2 linked regions of the Homo sapiens genome follow. The protein of the gene in region 1 purifies or fractionates together with the protein of each later gene. This does not show direct contact. Each region holds a gene or a part of one and is shown in the gene's direction. Other genes may lie near its edges. The genes, in order: CFAP210 and DSG4.

What was found.
Region 2: the proteins of CFAP210 (region 1) and DSG4 purify together in Homo sapiens (affinity purification with mass spectrometry; 2 studies listed by BioGRID and IntAct, with this or other methods). This does not show direct contact.

What each region holds. Positions count from the first base shown.
Region 1 is NC_000002.12:169,647,663-169,659,201, reverse strand, and holds part of CFAP210 (cilia- and flagella- associated protein 210), read left to right. Parts: exon of another isoform or gene 1-9; intron 10-366; exon of another isoform or gene 367-678; intron 679-4,987; coding exon 4,988-5,127; intron 5,128-8,680; coding exon 8,681-8,873; intron 8,874-9,855; coding exon 9,856-10,020; intron 10,021-11,539. UniProt on the Homo sapiens protein: Microtubule inner protein (MIP) part of the dynein-decorated doublet microtubules (DMTs) in cilia axoneme, which is required for motile cilia beating.
Region 2 is NC_000018.10:31,405,161-31,416,699, forward strand, and holds the end of DSG4 (desmoglein-4 isoform 2 preproprotein), read left to right. Parts: intron 1-916; coding exon 917-1,213; intron 1,214-4,291; coding exon 4,292-4,431; intron 4,432-4,584; coding exon 4,585-4,648; intron 4,649-5,949; coding exon of another isoform or gene 5,950-6,070; coding exon 6,071-6,288; intron 6,289-7,667; coding exon 7,668-8,435; 3' UTR 8,436-9,749; downstream 9,750-11,539.

The sequences.
Region 1 (11,539 bases):
TTGTACCAAGTTCTTTTTTTTAAAGCCCAATCTGGTGGACAAAGGTAACATATCTTCCTGATTTTTTATTTATTTTATTTTTTGAGATAGGGTCTTGCTCTGTTGCCCAGGCTGGAGTGCAGTGGCATGATCACGGCTCACTGAAGCCTTGACTTCCCAGGCTTAAGTGATTCTCCCACCTTAGCATTCTGAGTAGATGGGACTAGGCATACACCACTATGCCTGGCTACTTTAAAAAATTTTTTATAGAGATGGGCTATGTTTCCTAGGCTGGTCTCCAACTCCTGAGGTCAAGCAGTCCTCCTGCCTTGGCCTCCCATGGTTCTGGGATTATAGACATGAGCTACCACAACTGGCCTGTATCAGAGTTCTTAAGGACCAACCTCCTAATAGTGTAAAATATCTTCTAAATGCTCTCCGGTACACAATAAAACATTTGAATGATCAGACTAACTCCAAGCAAATTAAATCCATGATGCAATAACAGTTCGGGAATAAGCACCTGTTGTAGACAGAAGACAGTATTCTGCACTGACTGAGAATACAGTTTTTTAGTGATTGCAATTACCATGACATTTTTCTTGCTTTTATGTCTTCCTCTGTTCCTCTTCTCTCCTTTAAGATCATGTTCTTATTCCTAAGACTTCTTCTCTATACCCAAATTAGTAAAGTTATACTCTAAAGAGATATTGTCCTTTCAAACAGGTAACCTACAGCAGCTAATTATTGGGGTCTCTACTGAGAAAAATTCTGTGACTTTTATCTAAATATTTTCAAATGTGAATTTTGGGGAAACTAATATTTATTTGCTTCTCCTACATGGCAAAACTGCCAATTCTGCTATTTGAAAACCCCCAATGACTTTATTTTCTACTATCACTTTTTTCATGTGCTGCCACAAAATGAAAATGTTTAAATATGTTGTACAAATGGTAGCCAACACAAACTTTTTTGTAGTTTTTAAGAGTTTAAAGTTTTAATTTTACATTTTGACCTTTTTTGTAAGGGTGTATGTTATGTGTTTCACCTTTGTTAACATTAAAAACTGTGATGTGTGCATAGAATATTACTTTCTAGGGCTAAATCTCTGATTTCCTGAAGCTTATGTCTTTTTCTTTCTTGATTTACTCCCTCGTCTTGCTATAATACACCTTTGAATAGCTTCCTTAAGAATGGGTGTATGAGAGGTAAAATTTTTTAATTATCTGAAAAGTTTATTTTTTACTCATTTTTATTTATTTTATTATTTTTTAAGGACAAGTATGATAGTATGAAAAGCTTATCTTTTAAAGTCATGCATGATTTACAGTTTGATTGGTTATAGAATTCTGGGTTCAGAATTCAGAATTTTGTATTAATTGTTTCATATTCCTCTGGCATCCAGTATTGCTACTGAAAAGTATGATGCCATTGATGATCTTCATCTGACATATGTAATCATTTTTACTTTTCTTTCTTATTTTTTTTTTGTTTCATTTTGTTTTGAGACAGTTTCACCCTGCCTCCCTGGCTGGAGTGCAGTGGCATGATCTTGGCTCACTGCTGCAACCTCTGCCTCCTGGGCTTAAGCACTTCCTGTGCCTCAGCCTCCCGAGTAGCTGGGATTACAGGCATGTGCCACATACCCGGCTAATTTTTGTACTTTTAATAGAGACAGGGTTTCGCCATGTTGACTAGGCTGGTCTCGAACTCTTGGCCTCAAGTGATCTGTCCGCCTTGGCCTCCTGAAGTGCTGTGATTACAAGCATGAGCCACTGTGCCCAGCCATTTTTCTTTTTTTCTTTTTCTTCTTTCTGTCCGAATGGTTTTAGGGTCCTGTCTTTATCTCTGGTGCTCCAAAATTTTACAGATGTGCCTTGAATTATGTGCCTTCATTCATTTTTCTGGGCATTCAGTTGATGCTTTTATTCTGTAAACATATTTCTTTCATCCTGAGAACTTTTATTGTTTTATTTCTTAGATAATTTTGTCCCCTCCCATTTTATCTTTCTATTGTTCTAGAATCCCTCTGATAGACATTGGATTTTTTGAAATAATGCTCTAATGTCTAAGAATCTTTTCTCATTAGTTAAGAGAAGGCTTAAATGCATGTGATAGAAAACCCAAAATAATATACAGGTTTAAAGTGCAGGGGTGTCTGGTAATGGCAGCTATAGAATTAACAGGGACTAAGACACCTTCGACACCTTCTTCTCTTTTTTTTTTACTCTGTTCTTTTTTTTTTTTTTTTTTTTTTTGAGATGGAGTCTTATTCTGTCACCCAGGCTGGAGTGCAGTGGCATGATCTCAGCTCACTGCAACCTCTGCCTCCCAGGTTCAAGCAATTCTCCCTGCCTCAGCCTCCCAAGTAGCTGGGATTACAGGCACCCACCGCCATACCCCACTAATTTTTGTGTTTTTAGTAGAGATGGGTTTTCACCATGTTGGCCAGGCTGGTCTTGAACTCCTGACCTCAGGTGATCTGCCTGCCTCAGCCTCCCAAAGTGCTGGGATTACAGGTGTGAGTCACCACGCCCGGTCTACTCTGTTATTCTTTGTACATAGATGGCATCTGTTCTCAAGTTTGCCTCATGGCCCTGAATAGCTGCTGGAGTTTTAGCCCTCATCTCCACATTCTGGATAGCAAGAAAGAAGAAAGGATGAAGGTCAAAAGGGAGTACTCTATTTCCTGTCTCCTTCTCCTCCTCCTCCTCCTCCTCCTCCCGCACCTCCTTCTCCACCACCTTCTCCTCCTCCTCCTTCTCTACTTCATCTTCCTCCTCTTCCTTCTCTTCCTCGTCCTCCTCCTTCTCTACTTCATCCTCCTCCTCCTCTTCCTCCTCTTTCCTCTTTCTTCTTCCTTTTTCCTCCTCTTCCTCTCTTCTCCTTCTCCTCCTTCTTCTTCTTCCTCTTCTTCCTCTTCCTCTTTTTTTGAGACAGGGTCTCACTCTGTTTCCCAGGCTGGAGTGCAGTGGCACGATGTTGGCTCACTGCAGCCTTGACTTCCTGGGCTTAAGTGATCCTCCCACCTCAGCCTGCCTGGTAGCTGGGACTACAGGCATGTGCTGCCATACCTGTCTAATTTTTGTGGTCTTTTTTGTAGAGATGGTTCTGGTATGTTGCCCAGGCTGTTCTCCTTTTAAGGAATTTTCCAAGAAGTCCCACTTAACAGTTTTCCCTGAATCTCATTGGTCATAATTTTGTTACACCTGGCTGAAAAGAAAGCTGCACATGTAGTCTTTCAGCTGAGCATATTTCTACCCTGAATAAAATCTGGGTCCTGCTGCTAACGAAGCTTAGGCAACTAATTGTTTCTGCCGTTTTCTTTTTGTTCTACTGAGTTTCAACTTTGTATTCTAAGTCTTCTATTAATTTTTTTATTTTAGCTATGAAAATTTTAATTCCTAAGACTTTTACTTGAAATGTTGTTATTGTTTTCATTAAAATCTGATTATTGGTTAAGGGGTGGAATAATTTTTATGTCTCCAAGTAGGCTTGGAGTAGGACAGACCTAGTTTTTAATGCTAACTCTGCCATTTACTGGCTATATGACCTTGAGCTTAAGCTTTCAATATTGAAAAATGAGAATTAACTCTGTGTTAATCAAATCTGTATTTTTTGTATTATAAAAAGTCTTTGTGAATATTAGAATAAACTTGGAGAAAACAGCAAAATAAAACATGTAAGGAATTATCCAAAACACTTTTAACAGTTTGCTGTTTGCTTTAGTTTTTCATATTGATCATATTGACCAATATATTTCCTATCCAGATTACAGGCTTTTAAAATTAACCCATAAAATAGGAGATTAGTTAAGAGTGCTGGGCACATAGTAGACCCTGAGTTATAAATATATTGGAAGATTAAGTGATGCCCCTAACAACTTTTACCTTGAATTGGTTTCTACTTACATAATAACAGAATATGCCAGGCACGGTGGCTCGTGCCTGTAGCCCCAGCTACTCTGGTGGCTGAGGTGGGAGTTTCCCTTGAGCCCCAGAGTTCAAGGCTTTCATGAGCTGTGATCATGCCACTGCACCCTGGGCAACAGACACCCTGTCTAAATAACAGAATATACTAATATATCTATATATTCAGGCTATTGTGCTCAATGGCATCTGTTTTTATGATGGCTAACTCAGGCTGAGATCATAGAACATATGCTAATATGAACAGATTTTACTTTTTGTTTTAAATACTAGTGACCTACTTTTACAATTTTTGTTAGAATACATATCTGTTTTTTCTTATATGTATGCAAAAGCAAAGTTTGGACAAGAAACTAGCAATAGTGATTTGAGTCTGGAGGGAGGATTAGGAAGAGACATAGTGGATGGAGTGGAAGGACGCTCGCTACACTGTGTATGTAAAAAAACATTTTTGGTTTTTGAACCATATGACTATTCAAACATTAAATGAACTTTATATTATATATATATATTTGGTGTATTTTTTCTTATACAATTATTTTAAATTGTATACTTTAAAGACATGAGATACTTGAAGAGAAATACAGAAAAGCATTAAGAAGATATAAAAGTTACCTATTATCTCATACCCCAGGGATAACTACTGTTAACATTTGACACATTTCTTCCAGTCATTTATACATTATAAAGTTGTACTTACATGTATTTGTGAAATTGGAATATACTATGTAATGTTACATATTCTGCTTTCCCCCACCTACTTATTGATTATATTATTTGAATCACATCTCATGTAATTGAGAGTATGATTTATTTAACTATATTCTCAATGATTATTCTCTATGATTGAATATTTAGAGGTTGTTTCCATTTTTTTGCTATTATAAATAACTTTGAGATAAATTACATGACACATAAACCTTTATGCACTTCTCTGATCATCTCTTTGGGATAAAATTTCCAGGAGAGAAATAACTGGGTCAGAAGCTGTGACCATTTGACAGGTTCTTGTTAGCTACTGATATGTTGAAAGATATTTTTCTTTGTGATAAGTTAATATATACAATTTTTCCCCCAAGGAACATATGCAGGATAAACATATTATCAAAGCTGTAGAACAGCAGCAGCAAGAGGAAGAAGATGAAAAGATGAGAAAATTCATCAAAGCAAAAAAGCGTCTTATACAAATGGGGAAAGAAAAAGAGGCTGAAACACACAGGTAGGCTTTAATAATGTGTATAATAAAGTACTATCTGAAATTATTATGATTTTATGATTATTATGACAGTAGTCTTTAGGAACAGAGATCTTATTTTATATATGACTAGAGCATTCAGTGACTTGATTTCAGTTTGGGACGTGGGTGTGAGGACATCATCTTGTAGATGGTCAGAAATGCTGATCTGCCATCCCAGAGGAAGTATGAGCTGAAGATGGCTTTGTGAGTCATTGGTATATAAGTGGTAGTTGGAGTTGTCGATACAGATGAGCTCACCTAGGGTGAGTAGGTAAGAAATGAAGGTGGCATAGTCCCTAGGGAACTCCATTTAAAAGTCAAATGGAAAAAGAAGATAACACGAAGACCAATAAATAGTTTCCAGAGATTGGAGGAAAACCAGGGAAACATCAGAGAGAAGACTCTCAGTAAGAAGGGAGCAGTCATCAGTATTAGGTCGTAATGGGATTAAGTACAATTTTTAAAATGAAGTATTCATCAGATTTAGAGGACATTGCTTATATTAGTGAGCAGTTTGGTATGGGGTGTAGAGGTAAGAGTAGGAGGCCAGATTGCAGTACAGGGGGTTTCTGTCTAAATCATGCTTTCCCCTTGTGCAAAATCCTCTGATGGCTTCACATCTCACTTAGTCTTTACAATGGCCCATAAGGCTCTCCACCTACCCAAATTTCCATCTTCCCAGCTCATCCCTCCCAGCCTTATCCCTCAGACCTCTTCTCTTACTATTCCCTCCTCTCCCTCTTCTCACCTGCACTGGACTGGCCTCTGCCTGCTCTAAGGAATGCTCACCTCCAGAGAGCACGTAACTTGCTTTCTTAACTCTTTCAGATCTGTACTTAAATATTACCTTCTCATTGAGGCTTTCTCTGACTACTTTATTTAAAATTATACCCCCTCCCCAATTGCTTATCACTTTACCTGCTTTCCTCGCCCTCGTTGCTTGATATATAGCACTATATATATATACATACATATATATACACACATACATATATATATATATATATATATATATATATATATATATTTTTTTTTTTTTTTTTTTTTTTTTTTTTTTGAGACGGAGTCTTGCTCTGTCGCCCAGGCTGGAGTGCAGTGGCGCGATCTCGGCTTACTGCAAGCTCCACCTCCCGGGTTCACGCCATTCTCCTGCCTCAGCCTCCCAAGTAGTTGGGACTACAGGAGCCCGCCACCAGGCCCGGCTAGTTTTTTTTTTGTAATTTTTAGTAGAGACGGGGTTTCACCGTGTTAGCCAGGATGGTCTCGATCTCCTGACCTCGTGATCCGCCCGCCTCGGCCTCCCAAAGTGCTGGGATTACAGGCGTGAGCCACTGCGCCCGGCTATTTTTTAAAACTATTTATTTTGTTTACTGTCCCTCTCCTCCAGCAATCATGAAAGCCCCATGAGGGCAGAGATTTTTATTTTTATTAAAACTTTTTTTTAGAGATGAGGTCTTGCTATGTTGCCCAGGGTGGAGGACAATGACCATTCACAGGCGTGATCACAGTGCCCTGTAGCCTCAACCTCATAGCCTCAAGGGATCCTTCTATCTTAGCCTCTTGAGTAGTTGGGACTAAAGGTGCGCACCACCATGCCCAACTTCTAATGTTTTTGTTCACTGTTATGTCTGTCCCCAGCACCGGGAATAGTGTCAGGAGCATAGTAAGCAATCAATAAAACTGTTTAAAATACTATTTTTTGGAATTCTACCAGAAATGTCACCTTTTCTCTGAAGGCTTTCTTTTTTTCTCATTTGTCCATATCATTTTCTAGCTTTCTCATGGCATTTATTATCTTTTGTCTTCTATAACTATAAAGACATTTGCATAAATGTCTTTTCTCCACTTTAAATTGTAATTTCCTTGGAGTATGCACTGTATCCTTTCTCATCATTTCTCACATGCTGCTTTGCCAATTCACTAAGTGAATTTGTCACAACAAAATTATTTTTTATGCAATTTCATAAATAAAAATGCCCTAATTTAACAAGATGTATTCTTATGATGTACCAGGCACATGCTTAGGCTCTTAACTAGAGAGAGGACCCATTCAATTTCTGACCTGAGGAATCTCATAGTGAATTTGAGAGGCCAAAGTAGGAGGATTGCTTGAGGCCAGGAGTTTGAGACCAGCCTGGCCAGCATAGCAAAATCCTGTCTCTTAAAAAAAAAAAAAAAAAAGGAACCTTATAGTGTAAAGGGAGAAATTTAAACAGATCAAGTTAAAAAAGTGCTGTGAATAAATTCCAGACAGAGTATTGTGAGGGGATGGATATTTAGGATTTTGATAACTTTTATTAGATTATTTCCTTGATTTTATTTAAATAAAGGCCTTTTATAGCCTCAGCCTCCAATGATAGAGTAAGCAGGGTAGTCTGATAAAATATTGAAATATTTTCTGTGGCCAGGTGCAGTGGCTCACACCTGTAATCCCAGCATTTTGGGAGGCTGAGGCGGGCGGATCACTTGAGGTCAAGAGTTCAAGACCAGCCTGGGTACATGGTGAAACTCCCTCTCTACTAAAAATAAAAAAACTAGCTGGGCTGAGGCAGGAGAATCGCTTGAACCCAGGAGGTGGAGGTTGCAGTGAGCCAAGATTGTGCCACTGCACTCCAGCCTGGGTGACAGTGAGACTCAGTCTCAAAAAAAATTTTTTTTCTTTTTTTTTAATAGAGTCTCACTCTGTCACTCAGGCTGGAGTACAGTGGTACATAGCTCACTGCCACCTTGAACCCCTGGGCTCAAGCAGTCCTCCTGCCTCAGCCTCCTGAGTAGCTGGGACTACAGGTCCGTGCCACTGCGCTTGGCTAAATTTTTTTTTTTTTTTTTTCAGACAGAGTCTTGCTCTGTCGCCCAGGCTGGAGTGCAGTGGTGTGATCTCGGCTGACTGCAACCTACGCCTCCTAGGTTCAAGCGATTCTCATGCCTCAGCCTCCTGAGTAGCTGGGATTACAGGCGCCTGCCACCACGCCCGGCTAATTTTTGTATTTTTAGTGGAGACAGGGTTTCACCATGTTGGTCAGGCTAGTCTCGAACTCCTGACCTCGTGATGTGCTCGCCTCAGCCTCCCAAAGTGCTGGGATTACAGGTATGAGCCACCACGCCCAGCTTAAAAAATTTGTGGAGATGGGGTCTTGCCATCTTGCCCAGGCTGGTCTCTTAACTCCTGGGCTCAAGCGATCCTACCACCTCAGCCTCCCAAAGTGTTGGGATTACAGGCATGAGCTACCACACCTGGCCTAAAATATTTTTCAGTGTAGATAATTTTAAGATCTTATTTCTTAAACACACACACACACACACACACACACACACACACACAGATTATACATATTACTGTCTTTGGATTTTAGAATATATGTTACTTTATAGTTAAAAAATAATGTCCACTTAAAATAATATATGTAAGGAGCAATGGGGCTCCTGTTAGTTTTGTAAGAGACTGCAAAATATCTCAGATTCCCTAATTAAATTATGTTGGCTCCATTGGACATGTGTTCATGAAGATTTGACGAGTATGGTTATTTTGTTATAGGCTTATGGAGAAACGAAGAGAAAGAATACATAACTTCCTGAGTGAACTGTTGAAAGAGAAACTTGACAATGAAGATATGATTATTGCTAGAGATATTGCAGAAGCTGAGGCTGAATGGGAAAAAAGAGAAAGAGAAAAAGATGAAAAAAACAAAGCAGAATTAAAAACAATTGCAGAATATCGAGCCATTGTGGTAAACAATTCAATTATGAAAATAAAAATAGAAAGACAGAGTTAGGACCTTTCCACTGTGTTTTCCATCTCATCTGCCTCTCTAACCAAAAACTAGCCAAGATATTAAAAACAATGTATGAATTATCTTCCTGTATTTTTGAAATTGGACAATGTTTACTTCCTAACAAAGATGACACGACAGTTACAAAAAAGATATTTATAGATGCAAAGTAATAATCTCTTCTGTTTCAGAACCATCTGAAACGCAAAGGTTATTTGTTATACTTTTCATTTGTAGGTTTTAAAGACAAACCATGTAAAAATTATACATTTCTGTTTCTTAATATTTTAAAACATATCTTACATGACTGTCATAACATTTAATTTGGATAGTTTATACACATTGGAGCAATTTTTTTTTTTTTGAGACAGAGTTTTGCCCAGGCTAGAGTGCAGTGGTGCGATCTCAGCTCACCTCAACCTTCGCCTCCTGGGTTCAAGCAATTCTCCTGCCTCAGTCTCCAGAGTAGCTGAGATTACAGGCATGCGCCACCATGACTGGCTAATTTTGTATTTTTAGTAGAGACAGCGTTTCTCCATGTTGGTCAGGCTGGTCTCGAACTCCTGACCTCCCGAGGTGATCCGCCCACCTCGGCCTCCCAAAGTGCTGAGATTACAGGTGTTGAGCCACCAAGTATGGCTGGAGCAATTAATTTTTTACTTACATATATTTCCCTTCCTTGAGAAGATCTTGCTTTTCATCTTTTTCAAGCCAATAAGGATTGTCCTATAGCACTTGGGTATTTTCTGATATTCAGGAAATAGAACAAAACCAAAGTAAACTGGCCGCATGGGAACCACCCCAGGTGCATGCACTTTTCTGCTCCTGCATTGCTCCTGGCTGACTCTCCTCTGCTTCAACTCTCTGACTCTGTGCCTTTTCAGACAAGACTGGTTGCTATAACTGGTTTTATATGTTTCCTTTGCCTTTAAACATCTAGATGAAAAATAAAGAGGAAGAAGAAAGACAAAGAAAAATAGAGGCTAAAGAACAATTGCTGGCTGTCATGAAAGCAGATCAGATTTTCTGGGAACATGAAAAGGAGAAAAAATGCAAAGCTGATAAAGAACATCAAGAGGTTCAAGATGCCCATATTCAGCAAATGGTAATTACTCCTGAATGTTTATAATTATGTTAGTAATAAGTATATAATACAGAATTCATGCTAGTTTTCTACTCCCAAGCAGTTTCATCAGGTAAGAAAAAAATGGTCATTATGGTTATGACACAATAAAATGTATTAAAAATGTGAGGTTTGTTTCTATCTCCAGTGAAGTTCCCATGTGAGTTTTATCTTTTAAATGAATGTTTATCCTTCTTTAGTGTCTATTATACTTCAGTAAATATTAAAGAAAATACAAATGCATGTGGAGGCCATAATGTTCATCTTGTTTTACTTTTTTCCCATATCTCAGAGACTATGTTGATTGCGATCTCATAGGTTTCAGATTTGAGGAATGGAGATATCAGATTTTAAAAGATGTGTAGAGGACCTAGCATCCAATCATTTGTAACTAAAACCTGTTTTTGAAATGGTTGTACCATTTTCCATTCCTACCAGCAATGTATGCAAGCACAACTTACTCCACATACTCATCAACACTTGATAGTCATCCCTTAATTTTAACTATTCTAGTATAGTGATATCTTATGGCTTTATTTTACATTTCTCTAATGACCAAAGATAATGGACATTTTTTTCACATCCTTGCTAGCCATCTGCATACCTTCTTTTGTGAAGTGTCTATTTAAGAGTGTTGCCAATTTTTAATTGGGTTGTTTTCTTAGTGCTGAGTTTTTTAAAATTGATTTTTATTGTGGTAAAATATACATAACATAAAAAGTACCATTTTAAGCATGGTTAAGTGTACAGTTCAGAGGCATTGAGTACATTCACATTGATCATGGCCACTATACATCTCCAGGGTTTTTCATCATCCTGTACTAAAACTCTGTACATGTTAAACAGTAACTCCCTATCCCCTCTTTTCTCCAGTCTGAGTAACCTCTGTTTTACTATCTCAATGGATTTGATTATTCTAGGTACCTCATAAATGGAATCAGACAATATTTGTCCTTTTCTGTTTGGTTTTCACTTTTTTTTTTTTTTTTTTTTTTTTTTTTGAGACAGAGTTTTGCTCTGTTGCCCAGGCTGGAGTGCAGTGGCATGATACCCACTCTCGGCTCAGTGCAACCTCTGCCTCCAGGGTTCAAGCAATTCTCCTGCCTCAGCCTCCCAAGTAGCTGGGATTACAGGTGCCCACCACCACGCTGGGCTAATTTTTGTATTTTTAGTAGAGATGGGGTTTCACCATGTTGTCCAGGCTGGTCTCGAACTCCTGACCTGAAGTGCCCACCTTGGCTTCGGCCTCCCAAAGTGCTACGACTACGCATGAGCCACTGTGCCCGGCCTCCATTTTTGAATTGGATTTTTTGTTGTTGGGTTTTAGAAGTTTTAAAAATACTCTGTGTATTAAATCTCTTATCAGATACATGATTTGGAAATGTCTTCTTCCATCCCATGAGTTACCTTTTTACTCCATTGATAGTATCTTTGATGTATAAAAGTTTTAAATTTTTGGCCAGGTGCCAAAATAGTTTGTTGTTTCAATCACGATCAAATA
Region 2 (11,539 bases), on another chromosome or scaffold:
GTTACTATTCATGGTTTAGCTGTAAATTTAATCATCTCAACACTCCTTGTATTAATAAATAAATTCCAATGAATATTTTAGACAATATGTTTTATGAAAATTCATAGGCAATGATAGCACAAAGAATTAGGAGAATGTGAACAATTTTAAATGAAAGGGCAACAATTTTGAGTAAGATACATATAAACAGTCTTAAGGAGGGTATTGTGTAAACTGTAATCCTAAATAGAAGACTTCTAATATTTTCTTTCAGCTCAATATTATTTATTCATTGGGCAAATATTTATTGAATGTATATTATATGCCAATTACTGTTGCTCTGGAAAGATGCAGCAAGGTCCTTGCCTGCATTATAGAAGTAGCAATCCAGCAGTAAGCAATACTTATTTAAAAATTAGTTATAAATGTTAAAAAAAAAAAGAAAGAAAGAAAAGTAAAAAAGGCCAGGCAGAATGGCTCATGCTTGTAATCCAAGCACTTTAAGAGGCCAAGGCAGGTGGATTGCTGGAGCCCAGGAGTTCAAGACCACCCTGGGCAATATGGCAAAACCCTGTCTCTACTAAATGTATATATATTAGCCAGGCATGGTGCCACACACCTGTAGTCCCAGCTTCTCAGGAGACTGAGGTGGGAGAATCACTTAAACCTAGGAATCCAAGGCTGCAGTGAGTCATGTTCGTGCCACTGCACTCCAGCCTGGGCAATAGGAATGAGACTCTGTCTCAAAAATAACAAGAATAATAATAATAATAATAAATTAAATAAATGTTAAAAAAAAGTACAAGGTGCTTTATGACTAAGAAAGCATGAAAAATCTAGTGTTTTAAGTCAATATTTGGTATTAGGGAGAGTTAACCACCCCCCTAGCCCACCAAGGAATTTCCATTTATTTTCTGTTTCCTCTCTTCCATTTCAGCTACCTCGGCAATCCTTACGGCTAAGCAGGTTTTATCTCCAGGATTTTATGAAATCCCAATCCTGGTGAAGGACAGCTATAACAGAGCATGTGAATTGGCACAAATGGTGCAGTTATATGCCTGTGATTGCGATGACAACCACATGTGCCTGGACTCTGGTGCCGCGGGCATCTACACAGAGGACATAACTGGTGACACGTATGGGCCTGTCACTGAAGACCAAGCTGGAGTTTCAAATGTTGGTCTTGGACCAGCAGGGATTGGCATGATGGTTCTGGGCATCCTGCTACTGATTTGTAAGTACTCAATTAAATCCTTCTTTTCAATAGTTCTTCAAAATAGGGCTGTTACGAGGCTCGCTGGGATGGTTAGGTTCATGGAGCCATTTCTTTTTGGTATCTCTAGCAATTTTTGAGTGCCTTAGAAATAAACAATGGGACTGACAAATATATGCGCTTAATCCACAATGATAACTAAGAAAGCCTAGGGTGAGTGACAGTCCTAAAAATGGGAAACACATGCAAATCACTACATATACTACCTAAAAGCACAAAACAAATCCCATCATGGAAATTTCCTTAAAATGCTTTAAGAGTAGAGAGGCAGAAGCAATTAAGTCCATGTGGAAAAGTTAGGACAATCTTTTGGAAAAGTGGATTTTGAGGTGAGCCTGAAAAGCTGAGGATTTTTTTTTTCTTTTTTTCTTTTTCTTTTTTTTGAGATGGAATCTTGCTCTATTGCCCAGGCTGGAGTGCAGTGGCGCAACCTCGGCTCACTGCAACTTCTGCCTCCCAGGTTCAAATGATTCTCCTGCCTCAGCCTCCCGAGTAGCTGGGACTACAGGCGCCCACCACCACGACTGGCTAATTTTTGTACTTTTAGTAGAGACGGGGTTTCACCATGATAGCCAGGATGGTCTTGAACTCCTGACCTCGTGGTCCACCTGCCTTGGGCTCCCAAAGTGCTGGGATTACAGGCATGAGCCACTGCACCCTGCTGAGGATTTCTTTTAAAGGAGGATGATGTCTAAGGAAATTTGAAAGGTAATCAAACACACACACACAAAAAAAAACCACACACACAAACAAAAGGGAGCAAGATATGGAAGAGCATAGCACACCTAGGAAGCAGAGAGGCAAAAGGGAGTCTGGGAGCCAGCATGGAGGCATGTTCATGACACACCAGGCATTCTGGGCTTCAGTACAATGGCACAGAAGAGTTGATGAGGGCTGATGAGCGCAGGTGACCCTGCGGTAGGAAGCAAGTAGAAGAGACTAGAACAGAGAATTAGCCTCTGGGCTCTGGGTGAGTGCCTAAACTAAGACTGGTCACAGAAGTGGAAAGATCACCAAACAAAAATTTCCCAAAAAGGGCCCTCCTTTCCCCATAGAGTTTTTTTAAACATATAGATCCTCAGAGGAAGAATACTTCATACATTTTAGGTTGCCCTTGCAATATTTAGGTTTCATGGGGATCAAAAGCTGGGTTCTAAAATTAAAGAGAAGTAAATTTGTCAAACTGTATTGTTGCTGTTTTCAGGGATGAGCACTAATTAAAATGTAATCATTTCAAGGCATAAAAAATAACAGCTGACTTTTGGTGAGGATTTCTTTTTTGAAATAATCTGTGAGGTTTCAAAGCTATGCAAAGATCATGAGTGATTCTCACAATGATATTAGACACATTTTCCCAGAATATAACTCTACAGCAATTGAGTAGTGGTTTCGGGTAAGCTTTGAGTTAGCGGTTCTCAACCCTAGTTGTACATAAGAATTAGTTAAAGGTCTTCCAAAATTACTCATACTAGAGTCATACTCAAGATGAGACCAAGCATCAGCATGTTCAAGCCCTTTGGTGAGACTAATGTGCAGTTCAGGGCTAAAAACCCAGTGCCAGCTGCATTTCCAGAACGTTAGCACTAAGAATTTCAAGACTTTTTCCTGACCCAGACAAAGAAAGCATGAGAGTTGTTCAACTGATGGATTGTAGAATAGGAGAGGAATACCCCTATGGACACTTGTTTTCAATGGAGAAGCCCATGGTCTATTTTAGGAGAGAGGGGGCAGTGTGATGGTAGTGGGAGGGATCTGAGCCCAAACCTATGTTCCCAAAGGGCCTCAAATTGACACTTTTGATGTTAGCTCCAAATGAGATTACACATACAGTAATTGTATTGGGTATGTGCTAAAAACACTTCATTTCATTTATTAGATAGTGCCTTTGTTAGAGTTCAGGCCTGCAATGGTACATGATCCAGCTCACATTTAAATTCACAGAAATATAGAATAGGCAGAACCATGGCCTAGGGGCTACCAATTTTAGTTTTAGTCCTTTTCCAGAAAATGCTATGGAAATGTATAACTTGACCTTTCACTGTTCATAGTGCAGATGGCAAAATTGCCAAATTAATTGTTGTAATAAGACTAAAGCTGATTTTGCAACTTTGATAGTCTCTTCTTTTGTATCTGTTTTTAATTTTTAATTTTTGTGGGTACATAATAGGTGTACATATTTATGGGGTACATTAGCTGCTTTGATACAGGCATGCAATGTGAAATAATCACATCCTGGAGAATGGGGCATCCATCCCCTCAAGCATTTATCCTTCTATTCTTTATCTTTAATTAACCCACTTAGTAAAATGCATGCCATGCTAGAGAATTAGGAAAGTATGAAAAGCAACCAGAGTGGGCCCAAAGAACTAAACAGAGTGTATTCTAGAATCTTAGAAAACTTAAGCAGTGTCTATATTTATGGATTAAAATACAGAATTGAGGTGATTATTAGGGTAACAAATAGGAAATTTCCTCTTAAGAAACACTTGGATAGCTAAACATTTTTGATAGCTTTAATTTTTCATTATAGTCTATAAACAAAGTCTTAAAATAATTGTAAATATCTCCATTAAATTTAGTGAGTATTATTTGACTTCTATTTTAAGTGTAACTGTAATAAGGATTGAAGATAGGTCCTATCTCCAGGTCCTATAGCTGAATCCTGTATTCAATCCTCTTGATAACATATATTCATGATGCGTTTAACTTACATGTATGTGTGCATCTGCCCCAACCAGTTCAAGAGTCTTAGACTAAAGACGACCTTACTTTCCTAATCTGTCAGCAAAGAAATTCAATTACCTGATCGCAAACTCCTTGCCATCTAGCGCTAAAGTTCTATGTGATTTGGTGGTGCTGTATTTATAAACTTGGATATGTATACTCAATCCCCTAAAGGAAAAAAATGAGATTTTCTTACATATATTTGTATTTTTGTTCTAAATATACTGCCACCAAATGCTCCCCAGAATGATTCATCCAGTGACTTCCTAAACCGAGCAATGTGTGTTAACTCGACATTGTCACTTTCTTGGGCAGTGGCTCCACTCTTGCTGCTCCTGTGTTGCTGCAAACAGAGACAGCCAGAAGGCCTGGGAACAAGATTTGCTCCTGTGCCTGAGGGCGGAGAAGGAGTGATGCAGTCTTGGAGAATTGAAGGGGCCCATCCCGAGGACAGGGTAAGTGGACTGTCACTCTCCAGAGAAGTGTGGAGTTTCAGTGGAAATTGAGCATGTCTTAACAATTACATGCTGCACAAAAATGAACAGATGTCAGTTTTTAAATGTTTAACATAAAGCGTTTGTTTTTAAAATGTTTATTTTTCTTTTCAGGATGTGTCAAATATATGTGCACCCATGACAGCCTCAAATACCCAGGATCGGATGGATTCCTCTGGTCAGTAGACACCAAAATCTGTTTTTCCTTTTAAATTTTTCAAAATTATTCAACCAGACCAACTTCATGTAAAAGTACCTTATGGAAAAGTCTGTCAGTCTCTTTGGGTGACAGTATAATTAGAGGGAATGTGACCTGTTTGAAGTAGCCACTTTTTTTTTCTATCTGAAACTACAGACAGTGAAGTATGACACAGCAGTTAAAAGAGCAAACTCTGGAAGCAGAATGCTTGGGTTTGATTCCCAGCTCTGCCACTTGCTTAAGGGTTGCATATCTTTTATCCGAAATGCATAGGACCATGAGTTTGAGTTTGGCTCAAACTTTTTGTACCATGATGATCAAAAAGTTTCAGACTTAGGAGCATTTTGGATTCTTGATTATTGGATTTGGGATGCTCAACCTGTAGTAATAAGTCCTTAGTCAAGACATTTAACCTCACTGGGCCTCAGTTTCCTTATCTTTAAAATTGAGCTTATGATAGTACCTACTTTAAAGTGTTGCTGTGAGGAGTAAATAATACATATTACATATGTAATATATAATACATACATATATTGTATAGATTATTTTATTATATATAACATACATGTGTATGTGTGTCTATATATATACACACACACATATATAAGTGTGTATATATACATATATCACAAAATATACGTTAGAGTAGTGCCTGGCACTGTAGTAATTATTTATAATACAAGCTGTTTTTTTTTAAAGAGCTAAAGAAAAGGCAGTAAATGTACTCTAATAATACACTGAATAACTTTTCTTAACTTCAGACAAGCTTTTGCCTCAAAAGAGTGTCGTAAACTCTCCTATCTTACCAGCCCCACGCATATCTAACAATACTGAACACACTACTTAGCTATATGGCAATGATTGCACCAAACAGAGAGGGTGCTTAATTCTGCAGTGCACGTGAGCTTTCTCTGATGGTTCCTTAGTATCCCAAGCTTGGCCCTTTGTATGCAAAGAAACTCCGTGACTGAACATCCCTGTGAGCCCAGCTCCATCCTGTTCCGGAGTGAAGGAGGACTATGAGCTCAGTTTCTGCAATCACGCCGCTGGCCTTGCTTTGGAGGGCTCCCGGCTGGATCAAGCCCGCAGCAGCCACGGCGGGAACGGGCGCCTGCTTGTAGTTCTCTTGGCTAGTTCTACACCTTTAAGTCTAGGGCGAAGTCTGTGCAAATGTGGGAAGGCCACGTCCCACCACTGACTCCCTCTGTGTAATTAATTTACTTTTATTTGGTCAACAAGCCTGGAGATGTATCGGTGTAACTTGTATCTCTCTTTGTCAGCTTTTTAGCGCCTACGCCTTGCCGGGTGGTGGTGGCACCGCAGACGGCGGCGGCAGCGTTTTAGGCAGATGCGCGCTGCAGGCAACTCCAGCGCTGTTAAACCAACATCCTCCCTTTTCAGAAATCTACACCAACACCTATGCAGCCGGGGGCACGGTGGAAGGAGGTGTATCGGGAGTGGAGCTCAACACAGGTATGGGGACAGCCGTTGGCCTCATGGCCGCAGGGGCCGCAGGAGCCTCAGGGGCCGCAAGGAAGAGGAGCTCTACCATGGGAACCCTGCGGGACTACGCTGACGCAGACATCAACATGGCTTTCTTGGACAGCTACTTCTCGGAGGTAATGCCCTCACAGTCACACATAAAATCGTCTTGAGATTGAATAATAATAATAGTAAAATACTCACAATGGTAGTAGGCCTCTTCGGAAATATGCTGTTATTCTCAACCCTATCCCAAACCTGAATAAAAAGTATTTCACGTCTCCTTAAAACACAAAATGCTAATTTGCCACAGGATTTCATATTCAACTGCCATAGCGCATCTTAGTACCGTGAACAAGGCCACACCCCTCATCATTCTCCACTTCCCTTTTCCATTTTTCTATCTTTTGTTTCCTTGATTCCTCACCTTGTTTCCCACAGCAGTAGCAAAGCAGGAAAATGCTCATCAAGGGGAAAAAAGGTGCATTTATGACCTCTGTTTTTGATGTCCTTCATGTTCTCCCGGAGCCTCCAACAGAAAAGAGAAAATAAAAAGAATTGGGAACGAAAGGAGTTAAAACTCAGGAACGCAGCATCACCACAACTCGTGCTAGATTAAGACCTAGAAGATAGCTCTCCTATTCTCAGTCCAGTGACTTATCCACCAACTGACCTTCACTACGAAAAGGGGTCCAGCAATAGCACTGCTGGGTATATATCCAAAAGAAAGGAAATCAGTATATCAAAGAAATATATGCACCCCCATGTTTATTGCAGCACTAGTCACGTAGCCAATACATGGAATCAACCTGTGTCCATCAACTGATGATTGGACTTCTAAAATGTGATTCATATACCCAATGGAATATTATTCAGCCATAAAAAATGAAATTTTGTCATTTTGCAACAACATGGATGGAACTGGAGGACACTGTTAAGTGAAATATGCCAGGCACAGAAAGACTAATTTGACATGTTCTCACTCATCTGTGGAAGCTAAAAGGAAAAACCGAACTCATGGAGATAGAGAGTAGAATGATGGTTACTAGAGGCTGACAAGGGTAGTAGGGAGGGGAAACAGTGGGATGGTTAATAGGTGCAAAAATACTGTTAGAATGAAGAAGATCTAGTATTTGGTAGCACAACAGGATTGCTATAGTTAACAATAATTTATTACACATTTTAAAAGAACTAAAATAGAACTAGAATTTTATCTCATATTTCAGTCGGCCTGCTTTATTCTCCATCTGTTCATACATGAATTTCACCATGATTCTTTACCAAACAAATGCTGAAGATGTTGTTGCAATTGTAAACTATATCTTAAAATTGGTAGTTACAAATGCTATCACAGAATGTGCATGGATAGTATCAATTATTTTAATGAGTGATTGATACCATTATTCAGTTTATTCCGTAACAACTTAACTCAGAAGTCTCTCTGAGGGATTGCTGTTATTCTTCCTTATTTTAGGGAAAAAGAAATTTCTAATTCTGTATTTCCTTTTAATTTTAGAAAGCGTATGCTTATGCAGATGAAGATGAAGGTCGACCAGCCAATGACTGCTTGCTCATTTATGACCACGAGGGAGTCGGGTCTCCCGTAGGCTCTATTGGTTGTTGCAGTTGGATTGTGGATGACTTAGATGAAAGCTGCATGGAAACTTTAGATCCAAAATTTAGGACTCTTGCTGAGATCTGCTTAAACACAGAAATTGAACCATTTCCTTCACACCAGGCTTGTATACCAATCAGTACTGACCTCCCTTTGCTCGGACCTAATTACTTTGTTAATGAATCTTCAGGATTGACTCCCTCAGAAGTTGAATTCCAAGAAGAAATGGCAGCATCTGAACCCGTGGTCCATGGGGATATTATTGTGACTGAGACTTACGGTAATGCTGATCCATGTGTGCAACCCACTACAATTATTTTTGATCCTCAGCTTGCACCCAATGTTGTAGTAACCGAAGCAGTAATGGCACCTGTCTATGATATTCAAGGGAATATTTGTGTACCTGCTGAGTTAGCAGATTACAACAATGTAATCTATGCTGAGAGAGTACTGGCTAGTCCTGGTGTGCCTGACATGAGCAATAGTAGCACGACTGAGGGTTGTATGGGACCTGTGATGAGCGGCAATATTTTAGTAGGGCCAGAAATTCAAGTGATGCAAATGATGAGTCCAGACCTTCCCATAGGCCAAACCGTTGGCTCCACATCCCCCATGACATCTCGACACAGAGTAACACGATACAGTAACATACATTACACCCAACAGTAAGTGCTTTATGGTCAGTATTCTATGTGGAGACCTTGCACCTTGTAATCATCAATACATCCACCAAAAATATATAATGTACCATATATATTAATAGTCAACAAATACTCAGATATTCTAAGGTCAATGCCATTATTTGATTATACCATTTTGAGGGTGAATATGGCTAGGCACTTTAGATAAGCCTTTTTAAAATTCTTTCTGATTTTAAATAATGCGTCAAAAAATGTGCAGAAAATGTATTGCATCCCTTGATACTGTCTAACGAATAGCACATAACTCATATTGTGAATCCTATGGGTCTTGAGGCCTGTAGAACCAATCTTGTAAACCAAGATGCCTTGTTCTTGGAAGTTACAAAAGAAGCCCTGTCTACATCCACCAGCCATATTTTTCGTTAGGGAAATATTTATATTAAAATTTTTAATTGAAAAGTTGAATGAAATGTACATTCTGAAAGGAAATTGAAAAGGAACGTAGAGTATCTGTCAATATCTTTAGATATCTGAAGTCATTTGTCTCTTCAAAAGATTTTTCAATATTATGCGCTATTAAGCAATAGGAGATGCTTAATATAATAAGAAAAGAGTTTGCCAACTGAAAGCATGGCTGGAAATGGTTCATCAAAGAAAAATATATATTTTTATTGAACTTTATTGATTTATATGATTAACTGTAAATTAATCTAGAATAGCAAAAAAAAATGACAATCCTAAAGTAGAAAGAGTTATTGGGGAAATATTAGAGTTTTCCCCACTTACAGGGAATTTTTTCCCTACTGTTGCCAATTATGTCAGAAAAATACATGAAATATGGCTTAACCAATTTCATTGACCTGAATCGTAGAGCTTTCAATTGGCAACCAGATATTCTCCAAAAGCACTCTGTAGTTATTCATATATTCTACAATATTTACTTAGAAGCAACTAGGTGTTGGGTGCTAGTCTTGGCTCTGTGAATATACAGGTAAAGAAGACAGACATGGTTTCTGCCTTCATAGAGCTTCTATTCATTTCTAGACTTAAAATAAAACTCTGGGATATGGCTTTAAGTTCCTAACAACAATAATTAACCAACTACTTAAGTCCATTACCAAGTTGTGTTTCTCTTTGCAACACTACTGTTTATGTTGAATAAATAAAATGGAAACACATTGCTTACTTTTCGTAGGCATAAAGCTGACTTGAGAAAAAGAATCTCTAGCCAGGTAATTTTACTTAATTCTGTAAAATATGTATACAGTAGCAGCAATAATGTGACTGAGATAATGTAAATGAAATAAACTTATTTTCAAGGCTTAATCCTTTTGAAAGGAAATAATTGTAGTGTTTCTTGCCTATCTTTTGCTCCTTTATGAATAAAACTATTGTAGAATTTAAGTCATCTCAGATAACCTCTTACCTAGTTCTCTCATTTTCTGGACAATGAATCTAGAAATAGAGAGGTTAAATGACCACAACCAGCTAGTTGTGGTACAAAGCCTTGAACCCATTGTTCAGATACGCTAGCCAGTATGCTTTTTTATACTATAACTTCACCAGATCTGAAGAGGATCCAAACCTGCCTGTTGCATACTCTTTGCTATTCCCTAATTGGAAGAAAAACTCTCTCTCAAAAAATTAAGTTTTAAAGTGTAAGCGCAGACCAGCTAAAACATTGTAATGCTAGAAAGTTACTTACATATTTCCTAATATTTTCCAAATTATGTGTACTGCCAGCTGCTACATCCATTTCTCACTTTAGTAAATTTTACTACTCTATAATTGATGAAATCCATGGGGTAGCTAAGGAGCATTGGTCTCATGGTGATTAAACACTCAAGCAACAACCAGCCACATAGCATCTGGCACACACTCCATTCCGTGGCAAATCCTGACATGGATATTTCTCGCTTAAAGTTTGCATTGGATGGCTTTTGTTAAGTCAAAAACTAACACATTGGTGAGACTGCGGAGAAAAGCGGACACTAATACAGTGTTGGTGGGATTGCAAATTAGTCTAGCTACTGTGGAAAATAGTTTGGAGAATTCTCAAGGAACTGGGAGTTGAATAGCCATTTGACCTAGCAATCCCATTACTGGGTATAAACCCAAAGAAAAATAAACTGTTCTACCAACAGGACACGTGTACCCATGTGTTCACTGCAGTGCTATTCACAATAGCAAAAACATGGAATCAATCCAGGTGCCCATCAACAGTGGACTGGACAAAGCAAATGTGGTACATATACACCGTGGACTACTATGCAGCCATAAAAAAGAATGAAGACTGAAGAATGAAATCACGTCCTTTGCAGCAACATGGATGCAGCTGAAGGCCATTATGCTGAGCAAATTAATGCAGGAACAGAAAACCAAATACCTTATGTTCTCACTTATAAGTGGGAGCAAAACATTGGGTTCACATGGACATAAAGATGGACATAATAGACAATGGAGGCTATTAGGGGAAGGAGAGAAGGAGAAGGGCAAGGGCTGAAAAACTGTCTATTGGGTACTACGCTCACTACCTAAGTGACGAGTTCGGTCATACCTCAAACCTCAGCATCATGTGATATAGCTTTGTAACAAACCTGCGCATGTATTCCTTGATTCTAAAATAAAAGTTGAAAAAGAAAAATAACAAAATAAAAAATTTTAAAAACAGGTATTTTTATATATAATGATTTCTATTCTTTTGGGTAGATGCCCAGTGGTGAGATTTCTGGGTTGAATGGTAGTTCTATTTTTAGTTCTTTGCAAAATCTCCATACTGTTTGAATTTTTTTAACTACAAATGGATAAGTAGGATCATACTCTTGGTATATAGAAATACATGTTGTTGTCAGAGAAATTTTTTGAGTGTATTTTAAATTACTGTTATCATTTAACATTTAAAACATGTTAAAAAATTATAAAAATGAACTCAGTAAGTTTTCTCGTCTAGAATATAGTGATTATTTTAAATTTGGGTCTTTTTTTAATATTTTAAACTGACCAAAAAAGTGGAAATCGACCTGCAAAAATAGAGTTTGCATTCTATTAGGCCAATCATTCTAAGAATTATAAAATAGTCAAAACACTATGAGATTTTAGAAATGAAGAATAATACCAAACATTTAACTAATA